Regions from separate parts of the Homo sapiens genome. Here regions 1, 3 and 4 are each linked to region 2. Evidence: fine-mapped expression QTL. A gene starts in region 2. Each other region holds a variant in brackets. All regions are shown on one strand. Distances are between the middles of the regions. Region 1 overlaps AKAP13 (A-kinase anchoring protein 13). Region 2 holds the start of AKAP13 (A-kinase anchoring protein 13). Region 3 overlaps AKAP13 (A-kinase anchoring protein 13). Region 4 overlaps AKAP13 (A-kinase anchoring protein 13).

What was found. PIP is the estimated chance that this variant, and not a neighbour inherited with it, causes the effect.
Region 1: its variant is the best candidate, but not a certain one, in a credible set for the expression of AKAP13 in whole blood (TOPMed, PIP 0.87).
Region 3: its variant is the best candidate, but not a certain one, in a credible set for the expression of AKAP13 in whole blood (INTERVAL, PIP 0.70).
Region 4: its variant is the best candidate, but not a certain one, in a credible set for the expression of AKAP13 in whole blood (TOPMed, PIP 0.55).

What each region holds. Positions count from the first base shown.
Region 1 is chr15:85,418,898-85,424,423 of GRCh38, reverse strand. All of the region lies in intron 1 of AKAP13 (A-kinase anchoring protein 13), which reads right to left. Among named protein-coding and RNA genes, the nearest start is that of AKAP13, 41 kb to the right of the region's middle. The variant G/A (reference allele first, on the strand shown) is at 2,832.
Region 2 is chr15:85,377,471-85,382,996 of GRCh38, reverse strand. It overlaps AKAP13 (A-kinase anchoring protein 13), which reads right to left and starts at 2,394. Exons shown (of 37, transcript NM_007200.5): 1 at 2,199-2,394. It overlaps MIR7706 (microRNA 7706), which reads right to left and starts at 2,401; the gene lies at 2,335-2,401. RefSeq lists silencers at 1,690-1,857, 1,514-2,083, 2,464-2,543.
Region 3 is chr15:85,450,322-85,455,847 of GRCh38, reverse strand. The region is part of intron 1 of AKAP13 (A-kinase anchoring protein 13); the gene reads right to left. Among named protein-coding and RNA genes, the nearest start is that of AKAP13, 72 kb to the right of the region's middle. RefSeq lists enhancers at 1,023-1,569, 1,570-2,117, 2,708-2,827, 2,988-3,057. The variant T/C (reference allele first, on the strand shown) is at 2,704.
Region 4 is chr15:85,746,215-85,751,740 of GRCh38, reverse strand. AKAP13 (A-kinase anchoring protein 13) reads right to left here. Exons shown (of 37, transcript NM_007200.5): 37 at 2,386-5,526. Among named protein-coding and RNA genes, the nearest start is that of LINC02883, 9.7 kb to the left of the region's middle. The variant A/G (reference allele first, on the strand shown) is at 3,330.

The sequences.
Region 1 (5,526 bases), 41 kb before region 2:
AAGCTAGCAGAGCATTGGTTCATGAGGTTTAAGGACAAGAAGCTATCTCCATAACATAAAAGTGCACTACAAACAAGCAAGTGCTGACACAGAAGCTGCAGGAAGTTATCCAGACAATCTAGACAAATGATGAAAGTAGCTACACTAAACAACAGATTTTCAATGTAGACAAAACAGCCTTATACTGGAAGAAGACACCATCTAGGACTTCCATAGCTAGAGAGGGAAAGTCAAAGCCTGGCTTCAAAACCTCAAAGGACAAGCTGACTCTCTTGTTAGGGGCTAATGCAGCTGATGACTTTAAGTTGAAGCCAATGCTCACTTACCATTCTAAAAATTCTAGAGCCCATAAGAATTATGCTAAGTCTACTCTGTGTTTCCGTAACTAGAACAAAGCCTGGACAGAACATCTGTTTATAGCATGGTTTAATATTTTAAGGTCACTGTTGTGACCTACTGCCCAGAAAAAAAAGACTCCTGCTCACTCACAATGCACCTGGGTCACCCAAGAGCTATGATGGAGATGAACAAGGAGGTTAATGTTGTTTTCATGCCTGCTAACACACTTGCTTTCTTCAGCCCACTGACCCAGAAGTAAGTTTGACTTTCAAGTCTTATGATTTAAGAAACTAATTTCATAATCCTAGACCTGCCATCCATCCTCTGATGAATCTGGGCAAAGCCAACTGAAAACCTTCTGCAAAGGATTCACCATTCTAGATGCCATTAAGAACATTCACAATTCAGGGGAGAACATCAAAATATCAACATTAACAGGAGTTTTGGAAGAAGCTGATTCCAGCCCTGATGGATGACTTGGAGGGGTTCCAGACTTCAATGGGAGAAGTCACTGGACATGTGGTGGAAACAGCAAGAGAATTAGAATTGGAAGTGGAGCCTGAAGATATGACTGAATTCCTGCAATCTCATGATAAAACTTGAACAGATGGCAGGTTGCTTCTTAAGGAATGAGCAAAGAAAGTGGCTTCTAGACATGGAATCTACTCTTGGTGCAGATGCTGTGCATTGTTGAAATGACAACAAAGGATTTACAGTATTACATAAAGTTAGTTGATCAACTAGCAGCAGGGTTGGAGAGGAGTGACTCCAATTTTGAAATGAGTTTCTACTGTGGGCAAAATGCTATCCAACAGCATCACATGTTACAAAGAAATCTTTTGTCAAGGAGAGTCAATCAATGCAGCAAACTTCACTGTTGTCTTATTTTAAGAAATTGCCTAAGCTGCTCCAATCCTCAGCAACCACCACCTGATCAGTTAGCAGCCATCCACATCAAGGCAAGACCATCCAGCAAAAAGATCACGACTTGTTGAAGGTTCACATGATTGTTAGCATTTTTTAGCAATATTTTTCAATTAAGGGATGTACAGTTTTAGATGCAATGCTATCACACACTTACTAGACTACAGCATAGTATAAACAAAACATATGCACCGGGAAACAAAAAACATGTGTGACTTGCTTTATCGCAATGTTCACTTTATTCCAGTAGTCTGAAACCAAACCCACAATATCTCTGAAGCATGCCTGCAGATTAATATTGTACTATATTCAAATAGGTCACTTCTATACTGGCCATGCAACTGTTTTTCACAACCAGAAAATATCATATTAATAAGTCACCTATTTTACTGCAGAACATCTGCATTGCTGAGATGGGTTTGCTGCCAAAATAAGAAACTGTACACTAACAGCAACTCCTATTCACAAGAGAGTTGGATTGGTTTTTCTTTCCTAATTTAAAATCATATGCAGGTATGCACAGAGAAGGATGCAACACCTCATTTGGTTTGGTTTGGTTAGGGTAGGGTAAACAAGGTAAGTTCTTTCTTAAACTGCTCCATTATTAAAACAAAACAAAAAACCTCTGTTCAAATTATGAGAAAAGTCCAAACTAACCAATTACATTACTTCCTTAAAGATTAGTCAAAATGGTGCATAACTTGAAAACTGAACAGAGTACTTCCCCAACATAAGGACAAAGTTTTCTCAGGGCTCCAAGCCTTTCCTCCCCTTTTCCCTGCTAACTCTTCCTCATCTTACAGAACATGATCATGTAACCATCATCTCCTTCATGAAACAATCCCCTAATTCTCTCAACTCACTCTAAACTGGGTCAGGTAGCCTTCCTCTCTGCTCTCTAATGCACACCTCAAATCTCGTAACAGCACCCCCATACTGTAATTGTTGGTTTCCTAGTATGTCCTCTCCTACCAACATATAAGCTCTCTAAAGGTCCTAAATACGTACATACCCAGGACCAGACATACTAGTTGGTACATGGTAATTATTCAAATGACTCTGGATAAATCCCTGCCAAGAGAGATCATGATAGAGCCCACCATCATCTGTACTATTCACATCAATGCTCTATTTACAGTAACAAAGACCTTTGGAATGCTGACATATACTGAAGCACCTACTTAAGTGCCAGGCAGTGAGTTTTAGGTACTGGATATATGAGAGATAGAGTATAGACCTCCCTTATGGAGCACGAATGGTGACATTATAAACCAAATTGCAAATGTTCCTTATGCAACATGGTGGAAATGCAGTTAACAATGCATACACACCGAAAAACAGCACATGGGAAAATAAACTTTTAGTAGAAAATGAAAAACAATAATAAGTCTACAAAGTAGAAAGTCCCTTCTGTCGCCTTTCTTGGACCTGTGAAAGATTGTAACTCATTAACAGAGGAGGAAGGGCCTTTGCTTCTTCCAATTATATTATGAAAATCTGGACAAGAGTGAATATTAGAGAGAAGGGCAAAGAAAAAAAAAGATACAAAGTTGAGAGTGTGCACAGGC[G/A]CGCGCGCACACGCGCACACACAAACCCATCAAAACATTTGCTACTGTCCTGCAACCTCTCAAATCAAATATTGGGCTTTCATTCTGACAGTGACAGAAATGATCAAATGTTTCCTGCCATTTATTCCACTTCCTGTGCTCTAATTCAAGCCCCTTTAATATCCTTCTCAAAAACGCCAGGAGAGCCAGTGAAGACTTTCTCAATACAGCAAATAACCAGAGAGGGAGAATTATTCAGTTAGGAAGAGTAAGGGAGTAAGAGACCCACTCCAGCTGTTCCACAAGTTCAAATGTGCAGATAAGCTTCCATCTATTTTTAGTTTTTGCCTTGCTCACCCTTTAAGAATGACTAGTGCACCACAAGAACTCTAAAGCAACATTCTCCCTTAATTTATTCTAATTATATGTGCCTTGGACTGTTTTGACACCTGGAGATTTCACAAAATAGTTGCTTGTTTTCTCTGAGACTGTCACCATTTTCTAAAACTTGAGAAACTAGGCATGAAACAAAATCACCGCCTGCATTTCTAAGTCATCATCCATCTATACCTTTGTTTAATAAAAGTCTATATATTGGAAATAGTTCTCAGACCTTCACATAATTCAACTGTCCTAATCTATAACTAGGAATGAACCACACTCCTTAAAATGCAGAATTCCGATTTTTTTTTTAGAGAGACACGGTCTTGCCATGTTGCCCAGTCTGGCCTCAAACTCCTGGACTTAAGCAATCCTCCTACTTCAGCCTGTTAAGTATTCTCATTTTTAATGTAGTCCTTTTAAATTTTTTCCAATGAAAAAGTAATAGCCCACATTTAAGAAAATATTGGGGGAAATTCTCTTTCAATATTTCAGCTTCCTTTCCTTATAATTCCATCCCATTCAGATAATTTCCCTTACATAAAATAGCTAGCTCTTGACCTCCTTCGAAAATGGTCCCCACACTTTTACCCTTAGCAAAATTTTCTGGCATTATTCTCTGGTGAAATAAAGTACTCTTCCTCCTAATCCCAATTAGGGTAAGAGTTTTAAGTATCAACTTTCAATGAGTATTTGTCTTTTCTGTCTCATGGTATGGTCAACTAATTGCTTCATATTGAATAAAAACATAATCAGAATCATACCATACCCTGCATCCATTCTTTTCAAGCAGGAAAGATAAGAAATCAACTCCAAAGATGAATGAACAGACTGGGCTAGGGAAGCCATCAATCCTATCCAAAGTCATGGGCCAGATATCCCAAGAAGCTGTTTTGCAGCTCAGCAGACAAAAGAAGTGACAACAGTCTACGTCTTGAAGCCATCGCTGCTCTATCAGAATACTGTTAAAAGAGTCAGATTAAAAAAAAAAAGGCCGGGCGCGGTGGCTCACGCCTGTAATCCCAGCACTTTGGGAGGCCGAGGCGGGCGGATCACGAGGTCAGGAGATCGAGACCATCCCGGCTAAAGCGGTGAAACCCCGTCTCTACTAAAAATACAAAAAATTAGCCGGGCGTAGTGGCGGGCGCCTGTAGTCCCAGCTACTTGGGAGGCTGAGGCAGGAGAATGGTGTGAACCCGGGAGGCGGAGCTTGCAGTGAGCTGAGATCCCGCCACTGCACTCCAGCCTGGGCAACAGAGCGAGACTCCGTCTCAAAAAAAAAAAAAAAAAAAAAAAACAAGAGTCAGATTCAGACACTTAAGCCTTCTAGAAATGACAGATGAATATGAAAGGTGTGCCTTCTTTCTCTCACCCTCTTCACTCTTTACAGCCTTACAGAGAAAATGAGGTACACAATTTCCCTTCTCTGTGCCCTACTTATCCTTAGATATTGACATTTATCAACAGAATAGATTACATACATATGTTGATTACTGACAAAAGGCATATACTATCTTTCAAGCTTTTTAAAAAAAGCTGTCATTATTTTGAAATGAGACATAAATACTGGTTAACCATCTCTCTACATTCCCTCTCCATCCCCCAACAAAAAAACTCACTAAACTTGGAAAATTTTTTATTCTCCCTCCTCAACCCAAAAACTAGAATACCAAGAATCTTTCACTCTTAAATGATTAGGCAACTATATTTTCATCTATCTTGCAACTAAGCAATCCTATACATAAAAATATCCGGGTCAACAGTGACATACAATTGTTTTCCAGAATGATACACAATGTATCAGCGGCCACGTTACTTGTATGACTAAGCTCAGTCCAAAATGCAGATCAAGTTCATCAGTATGATCGGTGAGTCTTTACCAGGAATAGAAATGGGGCAACATAATGGCAACTCACAGAGTATCAAAAGGAGAGCATTTTATAAAGTGGCCCTGAGGCTGCCATAATTAAATCTCTCAGAACCACGCATTCTTTTAATGCATACAAAGAAGTTTGCAAAGTACTTGCAAAGAAGTTTGAAAATTTTACAAATCCTATGATGATATGATACAAAGATTATACTTAAAGCAAACAGTGTCCACTGTGGAATGTTCAAAAATATACAAAGACTCTTCCCATCACCACCAAATTTTTCTGGAAATAATGGTTCTAATTAATGGTTCTGGAAATAATGGCTCTAATTAAACCCTTAAGGGTGGCATCCTTGAGCACAGAATCCATTTCTTATTTTAACATCTGAACATCTAAACAATGCCCAGCACACAGCAGGTACTATAAGCAGACTGCTGAATTTAATTATCTATACTTAAACCCAT
Region 2 (5,526 bases):
GTTAAACCCACTTCTTTTCAAAAAATAATTGACAGATTAAAAAAAGGTTAGAAATCCTTTTAAAGTAAATGTCATCACAGATCTGCAAGTGAACTGTCATTCTGGACAGGTCCCCAGTTAGTGGCTCTCTCCTGTGTACGCTAGCTACCACTAGGCAGTAAAAATAATTTACCCAATTCAAACACGTACCGTGCCTGCACTATGTTAAGACTACCGGCAAAGAGGGTAAAAAGCTAAATAAGGTCTATCACAGCCCTCAAGGAGTTAAAGGACTAGAGGAGGAGTCCATTTATAGTATAGTATGTGTGCAGTTACCATTTAGTCAAGGCAAAAGAAGTGTGAGAAATCCTAAAACAATAGTACCTACAGTATAACATGCCATCACCGCCCAGAGAAGGAAAGCAACTAGTGCACTCGTCACGTCATGTTGTAAGTAGTACTTGCTTACATTATGTCCCTCCCTGACAATCCCTTCCAACCTCTGTCAACCTCCTTCCCCACAATCACACACACAAAACCACACAACCAGGAAGGGAAGCCATGGAGCGAGTACTGTGAATCCTAAAAGCGGCTCTGTAATTTAAAAGTGCAATGGCTGTACCTGAAGAAAATTTGTCTTTAGCTTCATCAGGTGAAGAAAATTGGTTTTATAACACAAGGCCCACCAAACCAGAAAAGCCCAGGAACGCTTCTCCACAGGACTCACTTAGCACGAGAAATCACTCTGAGCAAACTGACACACACAGTATTTCTCAAATTTTTCTTTTTCATTTAGCAGATGGTAAAGGAATACAACTGAAGTTAACAATAAATGACACTCTGGCCATTTTGCTCCACTATGAATGACAGACATTTAAGCTAGTTCCATCTGGGGAACTGAAACAGAATCATGTTCATATAATAAGCCACACAAACCAAATTAAGTGTAATATGTGCACCCAAACTTGACAAAACTTGTACTTAATGCAGCCTGCAAATCCCCAAGAGTCCACGACAGAATACAAGAATAGTAACAATGATTTATCTCAACTGATCTTAGCTTCTTCACAAACTTGCCAATAATGACCTTTCAAGAACTGCACCGTTTGTCCTCATCTGCGCAATCCAACAGTTCAGAAAAACTGAAGAAAATGCTTCTTCTAAAAATAAAACACTTGTTGTGGGGGGGACTACTAACAAAAAAAAAGGCACACTGGTTTTTACTGTACTGAAGCAATAAACTCTCCAAATAACTTCATTAAGGAGTGTCATTAGCAAAGAATGAACACCAAAATACCGCTCAATCCAATTTTCATTGTGAATTCCGGGATCTAGAAAATTAAATGGGACGGTATCACTCTGCTATAAGAACTATTTCCAAAACAAAACAAACCTATCTACCCCCTTTCTTGATTTTTTTTTAAAAAGTTTTAGGGTTTTTCCTTTTTTCAACTTCACATACTTCGTGGCTTTGCAAAAAAAAAAAAAAAAAAAAAGCAGTAAACCGTATTTACCAAAAAAAAAAAAAAAAGTTTTGTTTGGTATCAAAGTATAGCTGCAAGCTGAGCCGGCTGGCTGCACGGGTCCCAGAGCGCGTGGGGACCGCACGGGTCTCCTGGGCCGCTCGCCTGCGACCCGCGCGGGTCAGCTGGGCCGCACCCCCGAGAAGCCGCGGAGAGGCACCGACAGGCAGGCGCGGCCCGACGTGTTTACCGTCCGCGTCGACCCCGGGGAGCCGCTCCCTCGCGCCCGCAGCACTTGTTCACGGCGCGGACTCCACGGCGGGGACTCCACACCGCGGCCGCCCGCCCCAGGGGAGGAGTGAGCCCGCCCCGGCGGCGCCGACCCGGGGACCCGGGGCAAGGATTCGGGGCCTCGCTGGGGGCGGAGCGCCTGAGGTAGCATCGGCGGCCGGGCGCGCCCCCCACCCGGAAAGCGGCGACGGCCTCTAAGTTGGGCTGCGGAGTGGGAGGCGCGCCGAGCCCCAAGCAGACAATGCGGGAGAAGGGCGATGCGCAGGGAGGAGGGGTCCGCAGACCTGAGGTCCCGGCGCCGCCCGGCGACCCGTCTGTCCAGCCCGCCCCCGAAACCCCCGCAGCCCCCGCCCCTCCTCCGGGGCCCGCCCCACCGAGCAACCGCAGGGGACTGGCCGCGCTCCGCGCCCCGACCCACAAATCACAAAACTTCCCCCAACTCCGCCAACTAAGTTGCGCTCTCACCGTGCGGCTCCCGGGGCTCCCCCGCGGGCCGAGCTGGGACAACTCTTCACCTTCGCCGCGGAGAAAGACAATAGGCGGCCGCTCCCCCGGAGGCGGCTAAAGCGGCGGCGACCGAGGCGAGCAATGGGCACGGCAGTCTCGGCAGAGCACAGGCGCTTCACCGCGGCTGCTCGGGCTCCGCGCTGGCCCTGCACACAGCTCCAGTCCGCGCATGCGCCGAAAGACGCTCGGGAGGGTGGGCGGGGCACGCGGGAAGGCGGTAACGCCTGCGAGTCCTCCCGTGAGTACACGCGGAGCAAGAACTGCGAGCTGGGATTGCACGGCAGAACTGCCCATCTCGCTGCATGAGACCAATAGTAAGGCTCCTGGACGGGGCACTCAGGTTGCTAAGGGAGGCTGAGGTTGACCGCCGCTGCTGCTCGGCGGCAAAGTGATCAAAGTAGGGTGGCTGGCAGAGGCTGCTCTGGGAAATGCCCACCCACGGTCTCCTCTCCGCCCTGTCTCCAGAAACCGCCCTTCCTCTGTGTACTGGTGGTTACCTGAGCTGCAGCACTTAACCACACATCGTGAAATGATTTACTCCTCTATTTCCCCCACTTCAACTCAGGAAGTGGGGTTTAGTCTTCTGTGTCCACAGCCTAGGACCGTCTAAGGTATTAGGTATTAAATATAGGTATTAAACAAGTGTTGGATGGATGCACGGCGCTATGGCGGAATCACAATTGTGACAGTGCATTCCGTGAACTTCTGGCTACTCGATCACCACAAAGTCATTCCGTGTTCGAGCTGCAAAGGACCTCAAAAATCATCTGGTTGCTTTGGGAAACAAAATGTGGTCCGTGTACCAATGGTGCCGGTAACCACCGGCCCACAGAGGAAGGGCGGTTTCTGGAGACAGGGCGGAGAATATATTAGTTGGTACACGAAGAAACTTCTTTTTTCAAATAGTTAAGTGTTTTTAGTGCGCATTAGGAGGGAAATGCCTATCACGTCAAACCACTGTTTCATTAATGTTATTTCTTAGGTCAAATAAAAAGTGGCAAAAAACGAAAGCACTTCAAGAAAAGTGTTAAGTAAAAAACTGAGACAATTTATATGCAGTTGAAGAACGTGTAAAACTAGTTGATAGTGATTGAAGTAAGAACAGCGGTTAGGTAGGAGGAGAAGATTATTGGCTGGGAAGGAGGAGGAGGGAACCCTCTGGGGTGCTGGTTCTGTATTTTGACCTGGGTGATAGATAACAAAAGTATATACATGAATAAAAAATACATCCAGTGCACTTTAGTGCACTTTGCACATTTTAAACATGTATTTTTAATGTCAGTTTTCAAAAATCTGGTACAGGATATTACCCCCCCGCCCCCAAAAGAAAAGCAAAGATGCAAATGACTGCCATTTGGGAAACACTGATCCAGGCGGCTCACTAGCAGTGACCAAACACCTGAGAAAGGGTATTGTGAATACCTGATGTGTGTGCCAGGAACTTCCATTGTTGAATAGCTCCAAATCTCAGAAATGCTCCTAATGTTGAGCTCTGGTGCTCACATATATTTTCTCTTTTTTTCTTTTTTCTTTTTTTTTTTTTTTTTTTTTTTGAGGCAGAGTTTCACTCTTGTTGCCCAGGCTGGAGTGCAATGGTGCAATCTCAGCTCACTGTAACCTCCACCTCCAGGGTTCAAGCGATTCTCCTGCCTCAGCCTCCCAAGTAGCTGGGATTACAGGTACCCACCACCACACCCGGCTAATTTTTTTATTTTTAGTAGAGACAGTGTTTCACCATGTTGGCCAGGCTGGTCTCAAACTCCTGACCTCAGGTGCTCCACCCACCTCGGCCTCCCAAATTGCCGGGATTACAGGCATGAGCCACCGCACCCGGCCCTATTTTCTTAAGTAACCCTCACCGAATGGCTTTAAAAAAAAAAAAAGAAAAGAAAAGAAAGGCCAAACATGCCCAGTTCTTCATGTGAAATTATTTCTGTATCACTTCATCATGCTGCTCACCCTCTTCCACTGTTCTCTAATCTGTCCTTGTTGATTTTTAAAAACTGGCACAAGGCCTGGCGCGGTGGCTCACACCTGTAATCCCAGCACTTTGGGAGGCTGAGGAGGGCAGATTGCTCGAGCCCAGGAGTTCGAGACCAGCCTGGGCATCAATTGAAACGCCATCTGTACTAACAAATACAAAAATTAGCCAAGCATGGTAGCCCAAATCTTAGCTACTTGGGAGGCTCAGGTGGAAGGATTGCTTGAGCCCAGGAGGCAGAGGTTGCAGTGAGCCAAATCATGCCACTGTACCCCAGCCTGGGTGACAGAGCCAGACCCTATCTCAAAAAAAAAAAAAAAAAGGCTGGCACAGAGAGAGAAGCAGCCTATCATGAGCCGGTCACTTCTCAAAGAACCTGAGTCTTCTGTGAAGCAAGAGTGCTAACCAAGAAAATCACTTGGACCCTAACATTTGATAACCCAGTGAACTTCCCCCTTAGAACCTAGCTTGTTTGTTTCAGAGGCAGCAGTAAATGTTACCATGTCATCTTTCTACGGACACTGACAACACCGTTCCCTGCTCCCCGCCTCAGCAGGATTTACACCTTTCCAGTGGGCTGCAGGAAAAGTTAAGAGTCTAGCACTTCTTGAATTTACTGTGCTTACAAATCACCTGGGAGTGTTTGTTAAATGTGGATTCTGATTCAGTAAGTCTGGGGTGGCATCTGGGATTCCGCATTTCTAAAAAGCTCCCAGGTGCTACTGACGTAGCTATTTTGAAACCCGACTTTTTTTTTTTTTTTTTTTTTTAAGACAGAGTCTCACTCTATTGTCCAGGCTGGAATGCAGTGTCATGATCTCGGCTCACTGAAACCTCCGCCTCCCCGGTTCAAGCGATTATCCTGCCTCAGCCCCCCAAGTAGCTAGGATTACAGGTTCACACCACCACACCCAGCTAGTTTTTGTATTTTTGGTAGAGACAGAGTGTCACCATATTGGCCAGGCTGGCCTTGAACTCCTGACCTTAGGCGATCTGCCCGCCTCGGCCTCCCAAAGTGCTGGGATTACAGGCATGAACCACCATGCCCAGCCTGAAACCCAACTTTGAAGGCAGGAGTCTACCCTAAATTCCCCAAACGGTTGAGCCCTCTGTCCTCCTTGGGAATTCCTAAATTGTTATCTGCATGGCTGATGTCGTCTCATCATTCAGGCCTCAGCTCAAATGATCCTCCTCAGAGAAACCTTCCTTGGCCACCCTCCCTAAATTGACCCACTCTAATCTAGTCCCTCTCTTGCGTATTACTCAGTTTTTTCCATAGCATTTATCTCAATCTGAAAGTACCTT
Region 3 (5,526 bases), 73 kb before region 2:
AAGATTACAAAGGGATTACAGTAGTTTGCAGTAAGAAGCTAGATTCAACAATCTGTAATCTATTGAGTTTTATCTCGGTGTCAGACACAAATTGTTAAAGGGATGGACTGTGCGCCTTTGAAAGGGAAGCAATAATCTAAAAGCTCAGCATATACCTTCAAGAAGACACACCACAGTTCTTTTTTTAAAATAAATTTTATCATCCAAGGGATTGGTAACAGAGACTAAGGAAAACTAAAAACACTGTGTCTGAATTTGAGTAAAACCTATGCCCAAATCCCCTATGTTATTGCTGTGAACAAACTGAAGAAATGTGAGTTGAGACGTCATGGTGGCTATAAGTATAAAGAGTGTGACTAAAATTCCCCTCCCGCCGCTCATGCTTTTGTCTGTGCTTCTAGGTGAAATCTAGGAATTTAGAGAAGCACTGTGGGAGGGGGAGAATATGCCTCGTGTCCCACTGTTGCCATCCTCAACCCTATAATGGTTCTGTAAACAAAGCAAAATGAGTAATTCATAAATATCTACAAGAAACGAGATTTTGTACAGGCAACGCCAACTCTTCCCCACTCCCACTCTGCCTAATTCTAATTAACACATTTGCCAATGACTTAAAAAAAAAATCTAATGATCAAATGATCAAATATACAGACCATATTAGGTTCACTAAGAACATTAATACATTAAAAGGCAGACTGAAGATCCAGAAGTCCTAAAAGGCTAAAAGGATGTACCAAGGACAGACATGAGAGGCCCAATACACCAAGATGAAATTTAATATGGATACACATAAACCATGTACTTCCATCAAAACACCCAGGTCCTTCACTGAAACTCCCAAATGAACTCACAGAAGACAAGAAATCTATCTTAAAGTAGCATACACAGAAAGGAATTGTGATTTTTGGTGCCTAAAAATCTGTCAGTAAGACGACAGATCGAGAAAGGAGATAATCTGGATCAATTTCTTGCTGCCTGTTAAGAGACCAAATGATCTTCAGTGAGTAACTCAAAACAGTTACGAAATTTGGGTCAAGATAACAACTAAGGTGTGCAAAGTCTCGTTCTGGGGTGATGAAAAGATTCAAAATTGATCACAGTGACAGTTGAACAACTCTCTGGATATACTAAAATAACTGTACACTTTAAATGGGTAAGTTATATAGCATGTGAATTACATCACGATAAGATTTTTTTTTAAACAGTTTAAACGGCTAGGGAGTGGCCAACAGAGCCGACTAGAGGCAGCTAGTGTGTGTGACTCTCACAGAGAGGAACAGAAAGGGTGAGTAAATACAACACCTTCAACTGAAACATCCAGGTACTCTCATTGGGATTAATCAAGGAAACAACTTGACCCACAGAGAACAGAGAAAAGCAAGGCAGGAAAACAGCGCACCTGGGAGCAACACGGAGCCAGGGGTTCCTCCCCGACTCAGGGAAGCAGTGAGTGAATGAGCGATCCCCAGAAACTATGCTTCTCCCACAGACCTTTGCAAACTTCAGGTTAAGAGATCGCCTTGTGAACCCACTCCACCAGGGCCTGCAGTCTTCAGTCTGACCAACAGAGCCATGTGGAGTCTTGGCATGCGTGAAGACCCTGGAGCCTTAGATACTTGGGCTTTCTGGCAAAAGTAGCTGTACCTCCAGCAGGGTGGGAGGTTAGACTCCTGTAAATACCCCTAGGAAAGAGGCTGAATCCAGGGGACTGACCAGCAAGAGCCCACAGGACCCACTTCCATGGCAGCCCACAAGATAAGACCCACTGGCTTGGAATTCTAGCCAGCTGCCAGTAGTGGCACTGCACCTCCCTAAGAAGGAGCTCCTAGGGGAAGAGGTGGGCCACCATCTTTGCCATTCCAGCCTTTGTGCTTTGGAGAATCTGTGCTGACCCAGAACAGAAGGGATGCCCCAGCACAGCACAGCACAGCTGCTCTACCCAAACGTGGCCAGGCTGTTGCTTTAAGCAGGTGCCCAATCCCATTCCTCTTCACTGGGTAGGACCTCCCAACCTGGGCCTCCAGCCACCCCCACCCAAGCTCTCCAGCCAACAGAGATCTGAAGTTCCCCTGGAACAAAGCTTCCGGAGGAAGGGGTGGCTACCATCTTTGCTGTTTGGGTGACTCAGCTGTTCCAGCCTTAGAGCTTCAGAGTGTCTGAGGCAACCGAGGGCTGAAGTGGACCCCCAGCACAGCACACATGCTCTACCAAAATGTGGCCAGACTGCTTTTTTAAGCAGTCCTGATCCTGCTCCTCCTCACTGGGGGACCTCCCAACTGGAGTCTCCAGCCACTTCCTATAGGTGCCTTTGGACCAGCAACAGGTCATTCCTCCCTGGGACAAAGTTCCCAGAGGGAAGGACAGGCAGCCATCTTTGCTGTTTCACAGTCTTCACTGGTAACACCTCCAGATTCTGGAAAATCTGAGGTGACCAGGGACTGCTGCAGGCCTCAAGTATACCACAGCAGCCCTAGGGAAAAGTGGCCCCACTGTTACGTGGGTGGCTGATCCCATATCTCCTCACAGGGCAGGTCCTCCAAGCCTGGGGCTCCAGCCACCCCCAACCAGAGCTACTCAGCTAGCACCAACTCAGCAACTCCCTGGACAGAGCCTCTAGTGGCAACTAAAAGCCTCTCGGCCACTGACTCTACTGTGGAACTGCCCTTGCCACCCTCGGTCTGATGAAGGAGCAAAGACATTAAG[T/C]GCTTTATCCACACTCCAACAAGCTGCAGTAAACTCAAGGAGAGGAGGCCAGTCCATCTCCCACAGGTCCCACACACCTCTGACGGCTCATCACCAGACAGGGAACCAACCCCTGGCTTGGGCCCGCAGCACTGACCCTCCATCCTGGGCTGACTGCACTAAGCAACTGCTCACCTGCATCTCTCTGAGGTGGAGCCCCCAGGAATCAAGCAAACAACCCTTGGCCAAAACCACTAATAAGATCTCTCCCTCTGCAGCCTGTAAGCTGGGGGAGGAACATAAATACTGAGATCTCCCCAGAGCTGTACTGGATGTCATGAACTACAGCCAGCACTCAAGGGGCAGAGAAACCCATACTTTCAGGACACTGAGAGGGAACATGGCTACAACTGTGAGGAAACATAGGGGAGCCACACAACTGAACAACTGTTTAGTCCACCAGCTGTCCAATAAGCCTAAGAGCCACCTGCTGGATCATACCCCAAAGCTTTAACACCAAAGATACCTGACATACCCTCCCCTCTGAAACCAGAAACAAGAAGTCAGCTTCAAATAAACACCCTACACAAAACCTCAACTCAGTGAAAACATGCAGTAAAGAAGTCTATTGACCATACTCAATCTACACTGCAGTTAAAGTAATACCCACACACACTGACGAGAAATAACCAACACAAGAACTCTAGTAACTCAAATGGCCAGAGTGTCATATGTCCTTCAAATGACTGTACCAGTTCTCCAACAACAGTTCTTAACCAGGCCAAATGGGCTGCAATGACAGAAATATAATTCTGAATATGGATAGGAACAAAGATCATTGAGATTCGGGATGATGACAAAACCCAACCCAAGGAAAATAAGAATCATAATAAAGTGATACAGGAGCTGAAGGATGAAATAACCAGTATTTAAAAAAAAAAAAAAACCCTAAGGGATCTGACAGAGCTGAATATCACACTACAAGAATTTCACAATACAATCACAAGAATTAACAGCAGAATAAACCAAAGCTAAGGAAAGAATTTCAGAACTTGAAGACTTGTTTTCTGAAATAAGACAGACGGAAATAAAGACAAAAGAATAAAAAGGAATGAACAAAACCTCCGAGAAATTATGTAAAGAGGACAAAACTACAAATCACTGGCATCCCTCAAAGGCAAGGGGAGAACGCCAACAACTTAGAAAATATGTTTCAGGGTATCATCCACAAAAACTTTCCCAACTTTGCTAGAGAGGCCAACAGTCAAATCCAGAAAATACAAAGAACTCCTGCAATATTCTACACATGAAGATTATCCTCAAGACACATAATTGTCAGATTTTCCAAGATGAAAATTAAAGAATAAATGTTAAAGGCAGTTAGGGAAAAAGAGCAGGTCACCTGCAAAGGGATCCCCATCAGGCTAACAGTGGATCTCTCAGCAGAAACCCTACAAGCCAGAAGAGACTGGGGGCCTATATTCAACATTCTTTAAAAAAATCTTCAAGAATTTCATATCCAGCCAAACTAAACTTCCGAAGCAAAAGAGAAATAAGATCCTTTTCAGGAAAGCAAATGTCGAGAGACTTCATTACCACCAGACCTGCCCTTAAAAGATATCTTGAAAGGAGCACTAAATATACAAAAGAAAGACCGCTACCAGTTAATACAAAAACACACTTAAACACAGACACCAGTATCACTGTAAATCAACCACACAAACAAGCCAACATAATAACCAGCTAACAGCACAATGACAGGATCAAATCCAGACACACCATTACTAATCTTGAATGTAAACAGGCTAAATGCCCCCACTTAAAAGGCACAAAGTGGCAAGGATAAAAAAGCAAGACCCAATGGTATGCTGTCTTCAAGAGACCCATCTCACTCATAGTGAAACTCCTAGGCTCAAAATAAAGGGATGGAGAAAAATCTACCAAGCAAATGGGAAACACAATCTACCAAGCAATGGGAAACACAAAAAAGGTTGCAATCCTAATTTCAAACAAAACAGACTCCAAACCAACAAGGATCAAAAAAGACAAGGAAGGGCATGGGATAATGGTAAAGGGTTCAATTCAACAAGAAGACCTAACTATCTTAAATATATATGCACCCAACAGAGGAGCACCCAGAGTCATAAAGCAAGTTCTTAGAGACCTACAAAGAGACATGGACTCCCCACACAATAATAGTGGGAGACTTCAACACTCCACTGACAGTATTAGACAGACTGAGCCAGAAAATAAACAAAGATATTCAGGACCTAAACTTAGCGTTGAACCAAATGGATCTGACAGACCTTTTACAGAAGTCTCCAACCAAAAGCAACAGAATATACATTCTTCTCATCACGACATGGCACATACTCTAAAATCAACCATATAATTGGACATAAAACAATCCTCACAAAAGTAAAAGAAACCAAATCATACCAAACACACACTCAGACCACAGCGCAATGAAAATAGGAGTCAACACAATGAAAATCACTCAAAACCATCCAATTACATGGAAAATAAGAACATGCTCCTGAATGACTTTTAGGTAAATAATGAAATTAAGGCAGAAATCCAGAAGTTATTTGAAAATAATGAGAACAAAGATACAACATAACAGAATCTCTGGGACACAGCTAAGGTGGTGTTAAGAGGAAAATTCATAGCACCAAATGCCCACACGAAAAAGAAAGATCTCAAATTAACAACCTAATCTCACAACTGAAAGAATTAGAGAAGAACAAATCAACCCCAAAGCTAGCAGAAGAAGAGAAATAACAAAAATCAGAGCTGAACTGAAGGAAATCAAGACATGAAAAATCATTCAAAAGATCGCTAAAC
Region 4 (5,526 bases), 370 kb before region 2:
AAGTTTCCCAAAGGCATGGGGAGAGAGGGGTAGCCCACACATCTGTGGGACTAGGGCTGTGTAGAGCAAGCCATTACCATATGAAAGGAGGAGGCCTTAGCGGGGGTGGGAAGGGCCCAGGCTGTCACTTGGATACCAAAGGCAGCTGGGGATGGCGGAAGGGGCAGGGGCGGGCAGGCAGCAAGGGAGGGCCCCAAACTGGGGTGGAGGGGGTAGGCTGCTGGGGCTCTGGGACCCACATCCTCCCCATTTAGGGCACATGCCACTTCCTCCCACTTGTCACTCCTCTCTGGCCCGGGGGGACACCCACAGGGGTGGCAGGACGGCGCTGGAACTGGACTGCTCCAGGACCCTCTGGATGATCTGCCACTGTGCCCCTGAAGAAACAGAGTCAAATTTTAAGGACAAAGGAGTCTCCGAAGACTCCAAAGAACAGGAACTGTGGCAGGGACGGGGAGGTGGGGGGCTTGGGGAGGCACTTCTTGCTGTGCAGAGGCTGGATGAGGGGGTTGTCACCCCCAGGCAGGGAGTTCAGGGAGTTCCAGGTCTGAGGTCTAACAATCTGCAGCTCAGCTCGCCCGCCCTCTGCTTCTGTGGCTGCTTCCAAGGAAATCGCAAGGCTTGCACGCTGCATGCCTCCTCTCCTCCCAAGCTCCTCCCTGGCTTTTTGGTTTTTGGGGCCTCCTAGTGTCCTCCCCACACTTCGGTTTAGGTCTCTGTCTTGCAGCATCAGCGACTCCCACTTCTTTTCCGGCAGGGCTGTGGCTGCAGACAGCATCTCCTGCTAGTTCACAGGTGGCCGCCCCTAGGCCACGGGCTTTCCCTGGGGATGAGGGACCTTCAAACGGAAAATGGCCACTTTCGTAGGAGCCACTTGGCGGTCAAGTCTGTGCTGTGGCAGAGGCTCTGGGCACAGCAGCATCCGTTAGGAGTGGGCAGAGACTTAAGCCCCTACTGAATGGCTGGCTAGTGTTCTTGGGGCCCTCTGCGCTTTGTGTCTCTGCTGTTCTGGAAGAGAATGGAATCTTCTCGCTCTTCTTGCCTCCCAGACAGAGCCTGTCCCTGGCTCAGAACCAGTTGCGGTGGAGAGCGGAGGAGGGAGGCCATGGGAACCACTCCTCTTGCCCTGCTGAGGGTGTCTGGGTGGATGAGGGCCACCGCGGACCCAGGCCAGGATGGCTGCTGTGGGGGAGGAGACCGCCAGGGCAGCAGTGACAGCCAAGAGCAGTGAGCGAGAGAAAAAAGACCAGTGTTTTACTGGCTTATGGGGAGGCAGCTATCACCAGGGCTACAAGACTCTGCAAAGAAACCCGTGCACTTCCAAGTTCGTGGTGAAAGGAAAGACACTTGGCAGCTGGGCAGGATTTTATTTTTTGAGACAGAGTCTCGCTCTGTTGCCAGGCTGGAGTGCAGCGGCACGATCTCGGCTCACTGCAACCTCCGCCTCCCGGGTTCAAGCAATTCTCCTCCCTCAACCTCCCGAGTAGCTGGGATTACAGGTATGTGCCACCACGCCTGGCTAATTTTTGTATTTTTAGTAGATAGATATGGGGTTTCACCACGCCCAGCTAATTTTTGTATTTTTACTAGAGGCGGGGCTTCACCATGTTGGCCAGGCTGGTCTTGAACCCCTGAGCTCAAGTGACCCGACCACCTCGGCCTCCCAAAGTGCTGGGATTATAGGCGTGAGCCACCACGCCTGGCCAGGACTTTCTTTTTGGTGACTGTCAGGGAGGGGCGGGGAGCTGGGAAGTGGCAGAGCGGGGACTCCAGGCAGCTTTGCCCAGGTTCTCTGCATTACTGCGAGCGGCACAGTTCTCCAAGGCCCAGCTGGACTTAAGGGTCTTCCTATAGGTCCAGAAAGCGCAGACCTGGAAGAGTAGGAAGCTAGTAATCTAATCTAAAAATGGAAGGCACAGGCTGTGCTGGTGGAGCCAGTGACAGCTGGAGCCCTGTGTGTCTCCAGGGGAGCCCCGACATTCCGGGATCAGACCCAGTGAATCAGCCGGGAGCTACAAGCAGAGAGGATCTTTCTTCTTGAATTAGTTTCTGGCAGTTGCTCTAGTTTGGGGGTGGGACGGGGTGGAGAATGTTAGCGAAGAGAGAGAAACTAACATTAAGGGAAGTCGCAGGCTCTATAGCAAAGTTCCTGTTCACTGTATTGATTTATCTGGAAATAGGAAGTTTTGGCTCTTGGCATAAACTGTTTGTTTGACTTTAGGGCTGATCAGTCACTCTCTGGGTTTGGGTCCCACTCCGAGAGAGTGAAATGCGTCCCCAGCAGCTGCTCGGTGCATAAGGCGTCTCCTCAAGAGCTATGGGGGTGGATGGGGAGTATCCCTTCTACAGGAATCAGGAATAGGAATAAGTCACAGCACCAACCAGAACTTCACAGGAAATTTATTATTTTTTGAAAGGGCTGAGGGAGACTTTACAAGGGTCTGAAGCTGGTAACTAGAAAGAAAGATAAATAAAATACGAAGCCAGTATGTTGTGGCAAAATTCGAGAAAACACACTGAAAAAAATCTTTACAGTTTAAAACTGCTTCACTTTATACATAATTACAAATGAATATACAGCATCTGGGTTTTAACCCGTCTTTTTTATTTAATAGGATTTAGCACACAAATGTCCATAGAGCATTTGCAAACAAGCAATGAGAGCAGAGGTATCCGGTGTATCCCAACCACCCTCCTGCGGATCCCCACGCCTCCCCTGCGCATCCCATGCGGGCAGCAGCACACAGGAGACCACAGGCTAAGCCTGAACCACAGGCAGACTCACCAGGCACGCCCCATGGCCTGTGCTCATGCCCTCAGGTGGTGACGAAAGGTAGGGGAAGCTCAGGCCGGGGAAGGTGTGGGGGGTGAGTGCTTCCTGCAGAAGCCCCTCCGGACTGCAGCACAGGTGGTCCCACCTGGTTGTAGGGCAGGTCACTCACTTCGGTGGCAGGGGACACAGCCAGTGGGGGGTTGCACGCCTTTAACCCTTAGTGAGATGGAGAAGTAATTCATGGCCTATCAATCTTTTGACAATTAAATTAGATGAGTACTTGGAAAGATGCCTTTATTTTCCCTTCCTCCCCCCCGCCTCCCTTTTATGGCAGCATTAAAACACTTTTCATTTTAAAGCCTGGCCAGCAGGCAGTAGATTCCAAGGCTCTGGTTAACTAGGAATGCTTTGCTACATTGAAAGGAAAGTTCAAAACCAAGCCCAAACTCCCTGCCCTCTTCTTTGTCTCTGAGGATGGACGAGAGCGACGGGGCTGGCTGGGACGCATCCATAGGTGGCTGCGCACCTAGACGGTCCTGCTGAAGGAAGGCAAGGC[A/G]CACAGATCTCCAGCAGCCGCTGCCCCAATTCCATCCACAGGGTTATTTCTAGGCTCCCACATTCCAAGGACATCCAAAACGCAGAGGGTGCACATCGTTCTGCAGTGTCTGGGGTCACCTCACAGCCACCCTCTTTGTGACCACTTGAAGCCCATTCACCAGGACTGTCTTTCTAAACTCCCTCCCAGGGCCTGCCTGGCTGTCCTCTGGGCACAGCTGGGCCACCATCATTAGAGTAAACCTCAACTCCAATGCAAATACTAAAATCCTTGGGAAGACCTGGCTACAGAAAAAGAGCCCTAGAAACAAAAATGATGAAATAGAAAGCACTTCTGTGGACAGCAACTTCTGGATCAAGTTCTGGCCTCTAAGGTTATAGTCCCACCCTCTACTAAGGCAGGGTCTATCTAGTTCAACCCTTGCATGCACTAACACCTCCCCTCCCACATCAAGAAACAACGCCAAAGGTCTCAAAACTTTGTGCTCACGACTAATACTGAGGCCTCAGGAAGGTAACAAATACGGGAGAAAATGAGCAAAGGGGCGACTCTGAATAGTATTACCCTGAGACACAGAAGGGGAAAAAAGTTAAGATTCGTACCTTTCCAAAAAAACCTTGGTAAGGATTCTTCCCCCCAGATAGCTCTCACGGGGGTAGAGGGAATACTGGCAAAGGTTGAAAGTGGCAGTTTGCATGTTTTTAACCCTCTCCATTTTCTAAGAAGAAAACACAGTCAATACATTTGATTGTCTTGAAAATGAAGCCAACCGATGAGAGCATTTAAAGTGCACATGTCACCTAACGACAACGACTGAGATGACTGGAATTGAGAGAAGACGCAGTCTCCTTCCAGGAAGCTCACTCGATTCTGGAAATCTGGGGGCTCTGGATAGGAACTCCATCTTTCCCCCAAAACTTAAGCACAGTTTCAGGCACGTGATTTCTTTAGCTTGATGGAGAACATGGTGTCCCGGCGTGGAAACAGTATGGGGAATTCAGTCCGAGTCACCCCAAAAAAACAACCCCTTCTCATGTGATAGAAACCAAGACAGGCCATTAGATCCAGCAACTAGAGCACTGTCAAGGCCATGAGCAAAAGCACAGGCAGCCACCATCCCAGGTAAATCCCCAGGACAGGAACAAATCCCCCTGAGGACAACTTCCAAGGGGGGAAGAGAGATGACAAAGGTATGTAAGCACAGTTCTTGGTAAGCGGTTCTGTTGCTGCACTGCAGACTGTATTCCTGGATGAAGTTGGGTGGTTTGAGGGAATTCCGGGCACTACTTTGATTTTAAACTTGTCCAACCAGAACCTGACCAAATCGTTTTGAGTGGGGTCTGGGCAGATGTGAAATCTCTATTTTTAAAAAAGACCACCAAAACAACCAAAGCAGATGAAACATCACAGCTGGGCGGGGAGTAAGAGACCCTCTAACATTGATGTCAAGCTCTGTGGCGACGTGCTCTAACTTCAGCATCCACGGTGTTTTTGTGAAGAGCACGTACGCAAGTAAATCCCATCAGCACCAACCTCGTATTGTTCCAAACCCGGAGAACAGGGGCACCCGGCCTACATTTACAAGGAGAAGAATGCAGGTTCAGTACTGCCCTCCTGCAAATCCCAGGAGGGGAACTCGGAGCCAGTGCCCAGAACAGACAGCCAAGCCCCGGGTAGATCTCAGGAAAGTCACGACAGATTCAGCTGTAACTTGGAGTTGTACAAATAGGTGAAAGAAAGAAACTTAACTTTTTGTTTAGGGTCTTTGCAAGGGGACATATTTTCAATAGAAAAATCAGCAGGTTTTGGCCTTTGGTCTGTTTCTGAAGGGTGAGTATTCTCCATGACAGAAAAAGGCAAAGGTAGGTCAGAGGTGGCGAGTTTCTTCATTCTCAAACAAGGGAGAAGACATCCTTTGATTAAAGAATGAGGCGGGGTGGGGGAGGGAAGGACATGGACCCCCTCCCTTTAAAATTTCATCTGGGCCTTCAAGGCACTTCAAAAGACACAGAGTGAACAGTGCTGGCTGCCACTTCACTCGGTATTGACTGGATAGTTTAGACTGTTGGGCTAGACCTGGCTCACCCTTAAAAAAAAACAAACACAAACACACAAATACAATAAATAAAACAAATGTAGGCTACAAATTTTAAACCAGACCTCTTTCAAATAAACTGAAAGATAAATATCTCCATCT